Linked DNA regions of Homo sapiens. The protein of the gene in region 2 interacts with the protein of the main gene of each other region in a biochemical or structural test. Each region holds a gene or a part of one and is shown on either strand. Other genes may lie near its edges.

Evidence for each region. The genes of interacting proteins can lie anywhere in the genome.
Region 1: of the proteins of MARCHF6 (region 2) and SQLE, one has a biochemical effect on the other in vitro, tested with the Homo sapiens proteins (one study listed by BioGRID).

Annotation. Positions count from the first base shown.
Region 1 is NC_000008.11:125,015,504-125,022,529, reverse strand, and holds the end of SQLE (squalene monooxygenase), read right to left. Parts: intron 4,472-7,026; coding exon 4,329-4,471; intron 3,900-4,328; coding exon 3,803-3,899; intron 1,747-3,802; coding exon 1,659-1,746; intron 778-1,658; coding exon 585-777; 3' UTR 247-584; downstream 1-246. UniProt on the Homo sapiens protein: Catalyzes the stereospecific oxidation of squalene to (S)-2,3-epoxysqualene, and is considered to be a rate-limiting enzyme in steroid biosynthesis.
Region 2 is NC_000005.10:10,349,482-10,356,717, reverse strand, and holds the start of MARCHF6 (E3 ubiquitin-protein ligase MARCHF6), read right to left. Parts: upstream 3,024-7,236; 5' UTR 2,820-3,023; coding exon 2,801-2,819; exon of another isoform or gene 1,676-2,800; intron 1-1,675. UniProt on the Homo sapiens protein: Endoplasmic reticulum membrane-associated E3 ubiquitin ligase that plays a critical role in mitigating endoplasmic reticulum stress, the regulation of cholesterol and lipid homeostasis, and ferroptosis.

The DNA of each region.
Region 1 (7,026 bases), on a different chromosome or scaffold from region 2:
AAATCTGAGTCACAGCCCCAAAATAAAATAAATAAATAAATAAGTAATTTTTTTTAAAGAAAATAACCTTATCAAATTGCTTCACTGGATAGATGAGGAAATCAAGGTCAAGACATTAAGGCAACTTCCCCAGTTATTTAATAGAACAGGTTTCCCTCTGCACTTTTCATCCCACTTTGGTTTTCTTTTTCATTATCATGAAGCTATGTAAACGAGCCCACAACAAGAAACAAAAAGACACGAAAGTTCATTCTTCATTTTATTTGCATGTCCCAACAACTCATCTCAAATACTAAATTCAAAAGAAAAACTGTAGTTCTCCTCAGCATTAGCACTAATTTATGGTAACAATCATTTCTTTTAAATGTCTAACTTATTTAACCCCTTCATTTTAAATTGCAAATTAAAGCATGTATTTACATATTTATATACAAAAAACTTCAAAAACAAATTAATCCAAATCTTGGTCCAAGAGTTTCCACTTTATAAGTGGTATGGTACTATGCTATATATATCCTCTTCCAAAAGTCTCTTAGGACTTGGTAAGTTCCAAATATTCATTCACAAATGGTTCCCCTTTAAGCTTAATGAACCATATACTTCATTTCTGAGTAAATTAGAGGAAATATTACAGAACACGCTTTGTACAATACAGCACCACTACTGAGAAGGGCTCGAGGTTTTGTAATCCAAGGTTCTGACTTAAAGCAAAAATACACGGCATAGATTGCAACAGCAAAGAAGTGTCCAATTAAAACTAGAGGGTTAGGAGACAATCTGTAATAGAAAAAAATACATATTGGTAAGACTCAGAAACTAAAATTTACTCCAAAGGTTCCAATTACATATAATCTACGAAGCTCAACAAACATCCTACTTTTTTTTACCCAAGCATCATAATTCTGTATGAAACATTCTACATTTTAGAGGACGTCACAAATATGTCTGCATGTTAAGTTTGATGGCAGGAGCAAACCCCCCACCCCCCTTTTTTTTTTTTTAAGAAAAAATACTTAGAATATATCCCTTTCAGAAAAGCTAGTAACTCCTGTAACTCTAGTTTACATAAGTCATATATTTTTAGCTGTTTGTTTACTCATCCTGAGACACCACGCTGAAATATCTAGATGGCCTGGTCTGTTGGGATGTAGGGCTTTTAAAAATATCAGTATTAACATTCAGATTATAGATTATGAGAAATGACTCAAAGGATCACTTTGCAAATGAGAAATAACTCGATAGATTTCACTTTGTAGACTTTCCAAGAATAGTTCCACATATGTCTGTACGCTCAAAACTAATACTGGGTTGTATAAGTCCCCGTACTTCAATGAAACTAATTCTTAAATTAAAATTTCTCAATTATTCCTGGCTCCCACAGACCAGAACATATGGATAAATCCATAGGCAAAAAACAAGCTTCTATTTTAATCAAGGGTTATAGCTTCCTCTACCACCACCTTTAACTGCTGTTCCCTAGAAAGAAAACAGTACTAAATATTGCGTTTCTTCATTTCTTTGGGCCACCTTCTCATTGGGATACTAACAGATAATAAAATATCAAAATGTGTAAGGAAGAAAGATTTGCAGTAATTCATCAACTGAACAGTCCTAAGAAAATCTGGCAGGTTTGTATCCTCTGTGCCATCACAACTTACACAGAAAGCAGCCCAACAGGACCCGCAACACATTCGCCACCAAGTTTGAAATAAAGAAAACAGGCTTTTCTTAGTTGATGCAGGGAATCTAAAATAAAATTGTAAAATAATCAAATATGTGTACACACTTATGTAGGATGCTAATGATATATCAGAAAAAATGAGAAATAACAAACGCTACATCTTGCAGATAATTTTTAAATATCTAGTCCTAGAATTTCAACAACCAGGATTTCTTCTGAATTCCATAATCAGCATTATGGAGAGTAATATAAATATGAATAAACTTTTTTCTGTTAGTAAATAACTACTAATATTTAGGTCTTGGAAGAGTTGTTTAAAAGGTACTTCCTTGATTTTGCTGTTAATTCATTAAGTGATGCAAAATACTTTGGAAGCTCTTTTTAACACAATTCTAGAAACCAAATTCCCAGTCTCTAAGATGTCCAACCAGTATCTCTAACTAAGCAGTAAATTATCAAGTGAAGAGAGCTGTGAGTAGCGATAAATAATAATTCCTTATATCTATAAAGTTTTTAATACCTTTCAAAGTAACTCATAAAACCCTCACAATGTAGTGTAATCAATTGATAACCTTTTTAACCATTTAGAATCAATGTTCTGTTCAGGTATGCCCAGATTTTTCTTTACAACAGATTTTAAAAAGTAAAGGATGCAACAGGTAAACTTTTGCTCCAATAAAGGTCTTTCCTCCTCCAATCTTGTAACTTTTAAAAAATGTTGTTTTGTTGGTAGATTTAAATTCATAATGTTAAGAACTCAAGAAGTTAGAAAAGCTTAGAAAGAAGAGCTCAGAAAAACTCTTAAATTTAGTTCTTTTTATTTGCCCAAAACTCTAAACTTAGTTCTTTTTATTTGCCCAAAACTCTAAACTTAGTTACTTTCATTTGCCCAACCAGCCATTTTAACTTCTATGCCAATTTAGCAAGAGAAATTTGTTTGGAAAAATCATAACCAGTGAGATTGGTGGGGTTTTTGTTTTGTTTTTTTTCCTTAGGAAGAGTTAATGGTTATAGAGGCTACAGAAAGCATTTTTATTGTATCATCTTTTGTAATTATAACCACAGCACTTATCACTAGGGCCTCAGCCAGATCATACAAATAGCTATGTTGCAAATATACTAGAGTAGTGGCATATGAGTCAGTATTTATTCTTGAAAACTGAAAAGCCTAGTTTCATTAACCTACTATTAAACTGATGTGTACACTGCTGTGGTGAGGAGGTGGCACAGTTGCCTTTTCTCCTCCATTTCTTTTAATTTTTTGTTTGTTTGTTTTAGAAGATGAAGTCTCACTCTGTTGCCCAGGCTGAGTGCAGTGGCACTTCATATAGCTCACTATATATAGCTCACTGTAGTGAGCTATATAGTCCCAAATAGCTGGGACTACAGGCACACGCCACCATGCCTTGCTGATCTTTTAATTTTTTGTAGAGATGGGGTCTTGCTTTATTGTCCAGGTTGGTGTGAAACTCCTGGCTTTAAGCGATCCTCCTGCCTTGGCCTCCTGAAGTGCTGGGATTACAGGCATGAATCATTTCGCCTGGCCTCTTTTCCTCCATTTCTAACACTGCTTCTGCTAAGTTGTGTTTTCTCTAATATATACATTGACCGTGACCTCTGTATAATATGGAAACAGTAACAAAAGCACCAAAATAATCCAAATAAGTAAAGGGTGAATGCATTGTTACTTGTGCTTTTCAACAGGGACAAGATTAACAGCTTGTATTCATTTTATAAAATACTACTTTAAAAAGAAATTGAAACTAGTGTTAGGAAGAAAAAGACTACATTGCCTTTTAATACATGGCCAAAAACACCTTCCATCACAGTCTTGTGTGTGTGAGGACAAGCATGATCTAGTCTGCACCAGAGGAATTCAAAATAATGAATATGTTACTGAGGCATTGCTATTAATGTTGTCTAAGGAAATTCCACTACCTTCCAAACTAAAACTAAAACTACAACTATTGCTCAAAATGGAATTTTAAAAAACTACCAACTTGGGAGTTAGCAAACTCAGGTAACATTTTTATTTCTGGACAAATCACTAACTTGTTTATTCCTTTCCTACGCTAAAAATCTGCAATTGAGTAATATTCACTAAAAAGTGTCTACACTTACCATCTGTGGCAGAAAATAATTCATAAAGAGCCTGAGCAAGGATATTCACGACAAAGGAATGAGATGTTTTTCTTGCCCAGTAAAATGATTTTTTGGCCTAAAAAAGAAATAGCTCATTTATTATATGGTAAGGATAAAAAAGCACAAACTGATGTTTATAATCCCCTCAAACTGATACTTATCCTTCTAAGGACTATCTGCAAGTAATATTGCCTTATGTTTATCATTTACAAAAAAAATAAAAAATCACCTTCAGAGCAATGGGTTATATGACACTGAAGCTAAATTTACAACCACTATGAGCTAAGTGGCCCATAGCAATCAAGTGTTACATAATATTCAAATTTAGAAATTCTCTAAGATTCACAGGTTGCAAGTCAGGTTCTTTAAGCCTAAGCAAGATGCCTAAGAGCTATTATAAAGCATCAGGTTCCTTAGTACAGATCTCCCCATCAGAGCCCCACTGCTCTTAACCCCCAGAAATAAATCCATTTTGAGACATTTTTGTCAAAATAATTGATCTTACCTCGAAAATAGCTGCATCATCATAAAGGTCAGGGATACCCTTTAGCAGTTTTCTCCATAGTTTTATATCTTTAAAAGCAACAGTCATTCCTCCACCAGTAAGTGGATGCCTCATATTATATGCGTCTCCCAAAAGAAGAACACCTATGAAGAGAGGTAATGAAGATTTTATTTTAGAGCATCCCTTGAGACAAAACAAAAAGGATAACTCAATGTATAAAGATTACTGATGTAAGCTAATAATAAGAAAAATGTGAAAATACATGAAAACAAATCATGATTAAAATTTGCTGAGGCAAAAATTCAAGAGTTGTTTGAATCAATGTTGGGTACCTAATAGGTGGCCAGGCACTGGGGATATGGTAATAACAAGAGTGTGGCCTCTGCCCTCATGAAGCTCATATACAAACCTAATGACAAGTCCAATAATGTCAATACATTTGTAAGGCCTCCTTAAAATATGAAGAAAATAAAAAGAATCTACAGGTATCCAGGTATACAAAGCAAGTCCTCTGGCGATCATCCCCCTCCCACACAGGAAAGCACCTTCATAAGAACCAAAAGTCAGCCTGGGTACCAGCTTGGCCAGTGAGACAGAGCACCAAGTGGGTTCCTGGGGTCCCTGATTCTAGGTCTTGGCACCTGGACAGCATTTTTGGATCCGTCCTGGGTGAGAGGGGAGCCCATTGTACTGAAGGGAGAGACCCAGGTCTGGCAGCATTCACCACCAGCTGACTGAAGAGCCCTGGAGCCTTGAGTGAACACCAGCAGCAGCCAGGCAGTACTCACTGCAGGCCTGGAGCACTGGTGGCCATGGGGAGAGGCTCCTTCTGCTTGAGGAAAGGAGAGGGAAGAGTGGGAAGGAATATGTCTTAAGGTTTGGGTGCCAGCTCAGCTGCAGTAGAATAGAGCACCAAGTAGATTCCTAAGTTTCCCAACTCCAGGCCCTGGCTCCCAGACAGCATTTCTGGACCAGTCCTGGGCCCCCAGGAGCTCACTGCCCTCAAGGGAAGGGCACAAGCCTGGCTGGATTTGTGCTGACTGTAGAGCTCTTGAGTCTTGAGGGAACATCAGCGGTGACCAGGCAGTCATCACCACAAGCCTTTCACCAATACCCAGTGCTGTACTGGCTTCAGGTCTGACTCAGCACACGCCAGTCATGGTGGCCACAGGCATACCTGTGTCACCCGTCCCCCACAGCTCCAGGCAGCTCAACAAAGAAGGACAGACTCTGTTTGGGGGAAAGTAAGGGAAGAGAACCAAGAGTTCTTTTCCTGATAATCCAGGGAATTCTCCCAGATATTACCCAAGACCACCAAGGCGGTACCTCTACAAGTCTGCAAGGGTCACAATGTTACTGGACTTGGGGTGCCCCTTAATACAGATACGGCTGCTATGACCAAAGACTTAGATCACAACACTCACTTCCCTTTGAATACTTCAAAAGCGTTCCCAAGAAAGATGGGTACAAACAAGCCCAGACTCCGAAGACCACAATAAATACCTAACTCATCAATGCCCAGACATTGGTGAACATCCACAGTCATCAAAACCATCCAGGAAAACATGAACTCACTAAATTAACAATAATAAATAAGGCACCAGTGACCAATCCCAGAGTAACAGAGATGTGAGCTTTCAGAGAATTCAAAATAGCTGTTTTGGAGAAGCTCAACAAAATTCAAGACAACACAGAGAAGGAACTCAGAATGCTATCAGGTAAGTTTAACAAAACAACTGAAATAATTTAAAAGAATCAAGCAGAAATTCTGGAGATAAAAAATTCAATTAACTTACTGAAGAACATGGCAGAATCTCAACAGTAGAACTGATCAAGCAGAAGAAAGAATTAGTAAGCTTGAAAACAGGCTATTTGAAAATACACAGAGGAGACAAAAGAAAAAAGAATAATCAAGAATGAGGCACACCTACAAGATCTAGAAAATAATTTCAAAAGAGCAAATCTAAGTTCTTGGCCTTTAAAAGGAGATAGAAAGATGAGGGTAGAAAGTTTATTTGAAGAAAAAATAACAGAGAACTTCCCAAATCTAGAGAAAGATATCAATATTCAAGCACAAGAAAGCTACAGAACACCAAGCAAGGATTGGTGATTGATTTAATCCAAACAAGACTAGTTCAAGCCATTTAATAATCAAACTCCCAAAGGTCAAGGATATAGAAAAGATCCTAAGAGCAACAAGAGAAAGGAAACAACAAACAATGGAGCTCTAGTATGTCTGGCAGTAGACTTAGTGGAAATCTTACAGGCCAGGAGAGAGGGGCAAGACACACTGAAAGTGCTGAAGGAAAAGAACTTTTATGCTACAATAGTATATCCAGTGAAAATATCCTTCAAACATGAAGGAGAAATAAAGACTTTCCCAGACAAACAAAAGCCGAGGGACTTCATCAACACCAAACTTTCCCACAAGAAATGCCGAAGTGAGTTCTTCAATCTAAAAGAAAAGGACCTTAACGAGCAGTAAGCAATTACATGAAGGTACAAAACTCACAAAAGTTAAAAAGCAAGGAGGATAAAGTGTAGAGTTTTTATTAGTTTTCTCTGCTCGTTTGTGGAATCAGTTGTCATCAGTTTAAAATAATCGGTTATAAGATATGACCTGCAAGCTTCCTGGTAATTTCAAATCAAAAGCCTACAAGAGGTAGGCAAAAAAATTAAAAGCAAGAAATTAAAACAT
Region 2 (7,236 bases):
TATTTTTAAAGGACAGAGAACCGGCCAGGAACGGTAGCTCACGCTCGTAATCCCAGCATTTTGGGAGGTTGAGGCGGACAGATCACCTGAGGTCAGGAGTTTGAGACCAGTCTGGCCAACATGGCGAAACCCCATCTCTACTAAAAACACAAAAATTAGCAGAGGGAGGTGGCGCGCTCCTGTAATCCCAGCTACTCAGGAGGCTGAGACAGGAGAATCGCTTGAACCTGGGAGGTGGAGGTTGCAGTGAGCAGAGATCATGCCACTGCACTTCAGCCTGGGCAACAGGGCAAGACTCCATCTCGGAAAATAAAATAAAATAAAATAAAATAAAATAAAATAAAATAAAATAAAATAAAATAAAATAAAATAAATAAAAAACAGAACCACAACAGTATAAGTGTTTTCAAAAGTAGGTGATACTGATTTTTTTTTAATTTAGTTTTATGTTTGGCCATACTTTGAATATCTCCTACCAAAAAATTTCTAAGCAGATTTAAAAAACCTAAGTCGCATTTTTTAAAGAAATAACCTATAATAACTGATTTCACAAATAGAACATTTTTTATTAGTTTTTTGGCATCTTTGCTATATCATTTTTAATCCTCTATAACCCTCCCTTTTCCTTTAAGTGTTATTTCAACTTAAATTTAATTGTAAAAATGTCAGAAGACTTCCAAACTGGAATTTTGCAAAAGCAGGCATGAGAATACGGCACTAAAATTCACTTGCATTTCATGACTAATAATTTCATAAAACAAAATAAAGCAAAATAAAGTTTCCACCAAATTATATAAATGATTCATCCTATAGAGGGAGTGACAAAAATAAATTTCAACATTGGACTTGTAGTATACACTCATAAATAAATAATCTAATTTAAGTGCGACTCTGACAGACATGAGTCTGAATCTTGCCTCTGCCATTTACTACCTGTATTATCCTGGACAAGTTACTTAATCATACTAACCATCAGTTTCCTCATCTGTAAAATGAAAATGCCGACTACCTAACGATGTGAGAGAATTAAATGAAATGTATATAAAGTGTTTAGTAAAGCACATACTACACGTTGAGTCTTCAGCACATGTTATTTTAACAGGCAACAGTGTTCAATAAATAAATGTTATGTATACCTTATCCTGATTATAATTTTACAAGAGAAAAAATATATTTAAGCACTAGAAGTACAGTGAAAATATTTCATGATTCCATACGTGCTTCGAGCGCAATTCCTGAATTACCACAGATTACTGTCACACCATAAAAGTATGCAAGTAGCAATGCCCAGGCCAAAAGAATGAGAATTGAATGTAATACGTCCGTACCTATCCTGTGATAAATACATGCCTTACTAGATTTACTCATTAAAACCTGAATCTAAAAGGATGTGAAACCTATGTAGATGGAAATTTACACGCAAGGACCACCTGTCAAAAAGAAATAGTTCGCAACCTTCAGCAGTTTCGCTTTACTATTTTTTCCAAAGGCGTCTCCAGTGGCGATTAGCTACACTCAGTGTATATAATAAACACACTGTGGCATAATGAAAGGGAAATTACTTGCAATCAGAATGCCTAGGTTCAAATCTGCCTCTTACTACCTGTGTAAAGCTTCGACAAGCTATTAAAATAACGAAGCCTACATTTCCACATCTATAAAAGATAATACCTACCTATTCCACAGGCTTTTTACGAAGATGGAACGCGAATGTACATCAAGTGCCACATGTTATAGTTGAGGTATTTATTAAAGGCAAGACTTCTTTAAAAAAAAATAAGTCGTTATCAACTCATTACATAGATAATATCAAACTTTTTTCACTCATTATTGCACTCCATGACGGCGTTTGATAATTCATTTTCGTTTAAAATCGCCAAAATCGCAACCCATAAGGTTGAAAGACGCTCATACCCCCATAAATATACCTAAAGTAGAAAAGCATTTGCACGATAACCGGAACATCAAAAAAAGCAAAATTTAGTAATTTCCTCTATAAACTCACCACTCATTTAAAAACACAGCTGGTTAAAAATAATCTACTACCTTCAGTGGGTAAGAAAATGCGTTTGAAGAGACATAAGGTGTGGACGTTTATATCTTAAGTATTCATTTTACAAGGGTCAGTTTGTTCAATGTAACCGTATCCAAAACACAAGCAATCGCAAAACAAAACAAACAGAACCCTGCTTATAGGTGTCAAGGATTTAAAACCAAATGGATCGCAACAAAAGAGCCTCCCCGTTTAGTAAACAGATTCTCGAGCGGCAGGCAAGCCGAGGACCAGGCTTTTCAACAGGGGTCAGCTCACTCCACTCGGCCGTCATCTGGCGGGGTATTTTTCGCGAAGTTTCAAAGTCAACAAAGAAGTTCTGTCGCGAGGGGGTAGGGCCTGGCGAGCAATAGGCAGAAGGACGTAAAGAAAGACAAAACCCAGTGGGGGAAGGGTGCGGAAAACGCCCCCGGACGGCAGCGACAGAGGCCCCCTTTTCTGGGCCAGCGCGCGACGGCGGGGACAAGGGAGGCCACGCCGGCCTGCAGTAGCCCCGAGGCCCCGACCCCGGCCCCGGCCCCTGCCCGGCAGGGTCCCCGCCCCCCTCGGCGGCGCGGGCGGGAAACGGCGGGGGGCGCGCAGAGGGTCACCTTCCGCTCCCCGGCCCAGAGGCCCAGCGGGTGGACAAACGGCCCAGGCGTCCGCCCCGCCGCGATCCAGCAGCCCACCTCGAGCGCCGCGGACCTGGCCGGGGTACGAACCCGGGCGCCGACGCAAGGGCTCGGGCGCCGCGCGTCGCCGACTTACCTTCCTCCGCGGTGTCCATCTTGTCTGGGGGGGCGGCGGTGACGCAGCCACGAGGCTCCCGCGGCCGGGCGGGGAAAGAGGGAGGGGAGAGGAGGAGGGAGCCGGGCCCGGGCAGGTGCGTACGCTCAGGTGCGAGAGAGGAAGCGAGAGGAAGGAGAGGGGAGAGGGAGAGGGAGAGAGGCTGACAGAAAGCGAGCGACACGGGAGGGGGAGGGGCGGGAACACCTAGGGGCGAGGCCTGGGCGGGGCGCCGAGGCGGAAGGGGCGGGAGCTCCCCAACGACAGGCGCTGTCACTTCCGGCGGCCGCGGCGTGCACTGTCGGTCGGCGGCTAAGGAGGGGAGGCACCTGCATCTGGGGCGCGGCGAATCCTCGCGTGCGCCAGGCCGCCTGGGGTAGTCGCCGAGACTGCGCCGGCCAGCGGGGCCGAAACCTAATCAGGAGCTGAGCTTTGATGGCGGCTTCTGGAGGGACAAAGAAGGCGCAGAGCGGTGGGAGGAGGCTGCGAGAACCTAGCTCCCGCCCCAGCCGACGTGCGAGACAAAGGCCCCGGCGCGGGGCTCTTCGGAAGGCCGGGAGGTTCCTGTGACAATGCGAGTCTGCGCCCCACGCTCCCGCACCGTGATGCCGAGGCCAAATGGCTAGAGTGGGCCCAGGCATCAGCATTTCTGTTTGGCAGCCGGGCAGTTGTGGTGCACGTTTTGAGGAACTACTAAAGCCTGCCTGTGATGAAAAAGGCAAAAGCTGACTTCACCAAAATTACTCCCAGGGAGACTTCTGCATTTGGCTGGAAGGACATTTGAGTAAACCGCTGAGGCTGGTGGTTGAAACATAATCCTCTAAGGGAGATCGGTTCCGATACCCTGAGTTAGGGACGCTTGCCTGGGCAGAGCTAAGGGGAGAATGATCAAAAGCCAAGCTCTGTCCCCGTCAGCACGTCACCCTCCCTCACTGTAATCCCTGACTGTTTTCTCTAAATGAAGAATTATTTAGAGAATATAAATTAGAAGGGCCGCCACGTCAGAATTGCCTGAGTGGGAGCAGTCTTTCCAGCCTCGAAAAATGTTTAAACAATATGCAGATGACCTAGCACAAATAAAGAATGCTAGCAACCGCTGTTATGTGTGAGCGGTGGAATTGGGAGGGCTCTTCCCCCAATCTTCATCAAACAGAGTAAGGTTTAGAATAAAAATAATGAAATACAGTCTTTCAAAAAGAGCAGCGCTTGACTAATGTTACTGATGTCACTCATGTTACTCAAGGGAGGAAAGAACTCAAACTCTACATAATAATACCCACTGATTTCAAGGGCTGGCACGGAGAATTAAGCAGACCGCCATTCTTTATATTTGTTTTTTTGTTGTTGTTTGCTTATGATTTTTTTCTTTCTTTTTTTTTTTTTTTTTTTGAGAAGGGGTCTCGCACTGTCACCCAGGCAGGAATGCAGTGGCGCGATAATGGCTCACTGCAATCTCACTATATTGACCAGTATGATTTTCAACTCCTGTCTTTAAGCGATCCTCACGCTTCGGCCTCCCAAAGTGCTGGGGTTACAGACATGTGCCACTATGCCCTGCCTAAATATGTTTATATATACTACCGCCAAAGAAACAATTTGAAGACGATCTTTCCCCAGCCCCTCTCCTTCTGATCCAACTCCAAGAGCTCACCCTCCCTGTAAGACCTGTAGCAGAGCACGTATTGGCCTGCTGATACTAGGGGCAAAGACCGGGCCGATCAGATGTTACATGGCATAAGGGCGAAGGATTCTGAAAGAAAGACTGAGACTTGCTGGAGGAAGTACTAGTAGTGCCAAGGGCAGGTATGTGACCCTCGGAGCTGCAGAGCCAGGTTAGGATGAAGGGAATGTGTGTGTATGGGGGGCGTGGAGGAAGCCTTCCTTTTGTATTTAGGTGCCTTCCCTTGTGATGTTCAAAGGAAAGTTAACCTGTCAACCAGTTTTCCCTTCTGCATAGTAATTCCTTCTGGAATTGCCCTAACCTTTTCGCATTCAGACTTTAGGCGTTAAATATAAGAGTAATAAACCAACATTTGTTGAGTCCCCACTGTGAGTCAGGCACAAGTTCTCACAACAGCCCTTTGAATACATGAATCAGTCACACCTCTCTTGGTTGCCATTGACAGGAACTCAACTGTTAGGCAGAAGGGAGGAATGTACTGTTGATATGGACAGACTCCAAGAAGGGGAGGGACTGCTGGGACTACTAGAACGAGAATGCCTCTGCCCCTATGGCTCAGCTCTGCAACTCTCTCTGCACATTGGCTTCATGCTGTTAGACCAGCTTCCTCCATATGTCTGGAAACAAGGCCACTGACAGCTCCCAACATTTCATCTTCTGCCTCATCATCAGACAGGCGAGGTAAGGATGATGATCTCTAGTCCCAAGTTAAAAATTCTCAGGGAAGGCTAGTTCATTGGTCCAGCTAGTTGCCTGTCCGTGAATCAAATGATTGTGCCAAAGATCTAGGATCTTTAAGAACATGGACATTGTCATGTTCTTGTAACTGCCATTTCAGGTAAGAACAATGTACACTACCTTGTGGAAGTAGAGAAAGACCGTTTCCCACAAGAAGGGGGAGGACCAAACAATAGATATCCATTACAATTAGAATTCTCATTGTCCAATCAAGAAAAATACTTTTTTTTTTTTTGAAACATTGTTACCGAGGCTGGAGTGCAGTGGCATGATCTTGGCTCATTGCAACAGTCCACCACCCTGGCTTAAGTGATCCTCCCACCTCAGCTTCCCGAGTATCAAGTAGCTGGGACTACAGGCATATGACGCCCAGCTAATTTTTGTGGTTTGTTTTTTTGTTTGTTTGTTTTTGGTATAGATGGGGTTTCACCATGTTGCCCAGGCTGGTCTTGAACTCCTGGGCTCAAGCAATCCGCCCACCATGGCCGCCCAAAGTGCTGGGATTGCAGGTGTGAGCCACTGTGCCTGGCCAAGAAAGATCCTTTATTAAAGACATAGTATACCCATGATTCCAGCCTCGTGTGTGTGTGTGTGTGTGTGTGTGTGTGTGTGTGTACTGTGCTGCGAGAATGCTATAGCAATGCTGGCTTTCCATACCCCAATAAGCAATGAGTAAGAGGGGAAGTGTAGGGGGACACAGTGTAACTGTAACAAACTAACAATGACAACTAACCAAACTCCTTATTATGTCCAATGAACATCCATAGCAATCCTGTGAAGTAAATATTACACACTTTTTTTTTTTTTTGAGACAGAGTCTTGCTGTGTTGCCCAGGCTGGAGTGCAGTGGCGTGATCTCAGCTCATTGCAACCTCTGCCTCCTGGGTTCTAGCAATTCTCTGCCTCAGCCTCCTGAGTAGCTGGGATTACAGGTGCCCACCACCATGCTTGGCTAATTTTTGTATTTTTAGTAGAGATGGGGTTTCACTATCTTGGCCAGGCTGGTCTTGAACTCCTAACCTCGTGATCCACCCGCCTCGGCCTCCCAAAGTGCTGGGATTACAGGCATGAGCCACTGCACCCAGTCCAATTTTTTAAAAAATATATTCTTGGGACAGTTGAAATTGAAAAATTGAAACTTATATAGATTCTGTGAACGGTCTTGTAGCGATGTTAACTTCTTGATTTGGAAGATCCTTGTTTGGGGAAATACCCACTATAGCATTTAGGGGTAACGTGGACTCAGGTCTGAAGCTTGTTCCCAAATGGTTCAGAAAAAGACTAATTGTGTGTGGGGTCAGGGCAGAGTTAACATTGGCGAATCTGGGTGACGACAATGTGGAGATTGTCTTGCACTCTACTTGGAACTTTTCTGTGAGTTTGAAATCATTCTAAAATCATTTTTTAATTAAAATTACTAGGTACTGATAGAACTCTAAAGCAATAGTTATCAAATTTGAGGGTGTCTCTATCACTGGCACCTTTAACAATCTGATAACATCTATGGATTTTGTTCCCAGAAAAAATTGGTTAAACACAAAACATTGCATGAAATTTCAGGGGGGTATATAGATGCCTTGAACTCCATGCATGAATCCTAGGTTAAAAGAACCTCTCATTTAAAGTACTGAGAAAAGTGGTGATGTTCGCTTCCCTTTCTAAGACTATGGCAGACTGGGTTTTTTAGACCAACAATTGGAAATTCTATATAAAATATAGAAAACAGATTCCTAAAAGCACTGAACGCCTGACAAAAATAGTAAGGTAACTACCAGGCCAAAAATTTTTTTTTTTTTTTTTTTGAGACAGAGTCTCCCTCACTCTGCTGCCAAGGCTGGAGTGGTGTGATCTCTGCTCACTGCAACTTCTGCCTTCTGGGTTCAAGCAATTCTCCCGCCTCAGCCTCCTGAGTGGCTGGGATTACAGGCATGTGCCACCACTCCTGACTAATCTTTGAATTTTTGTGGAGACAGGGTTTCACCATGTTGGCCAAGCTGGT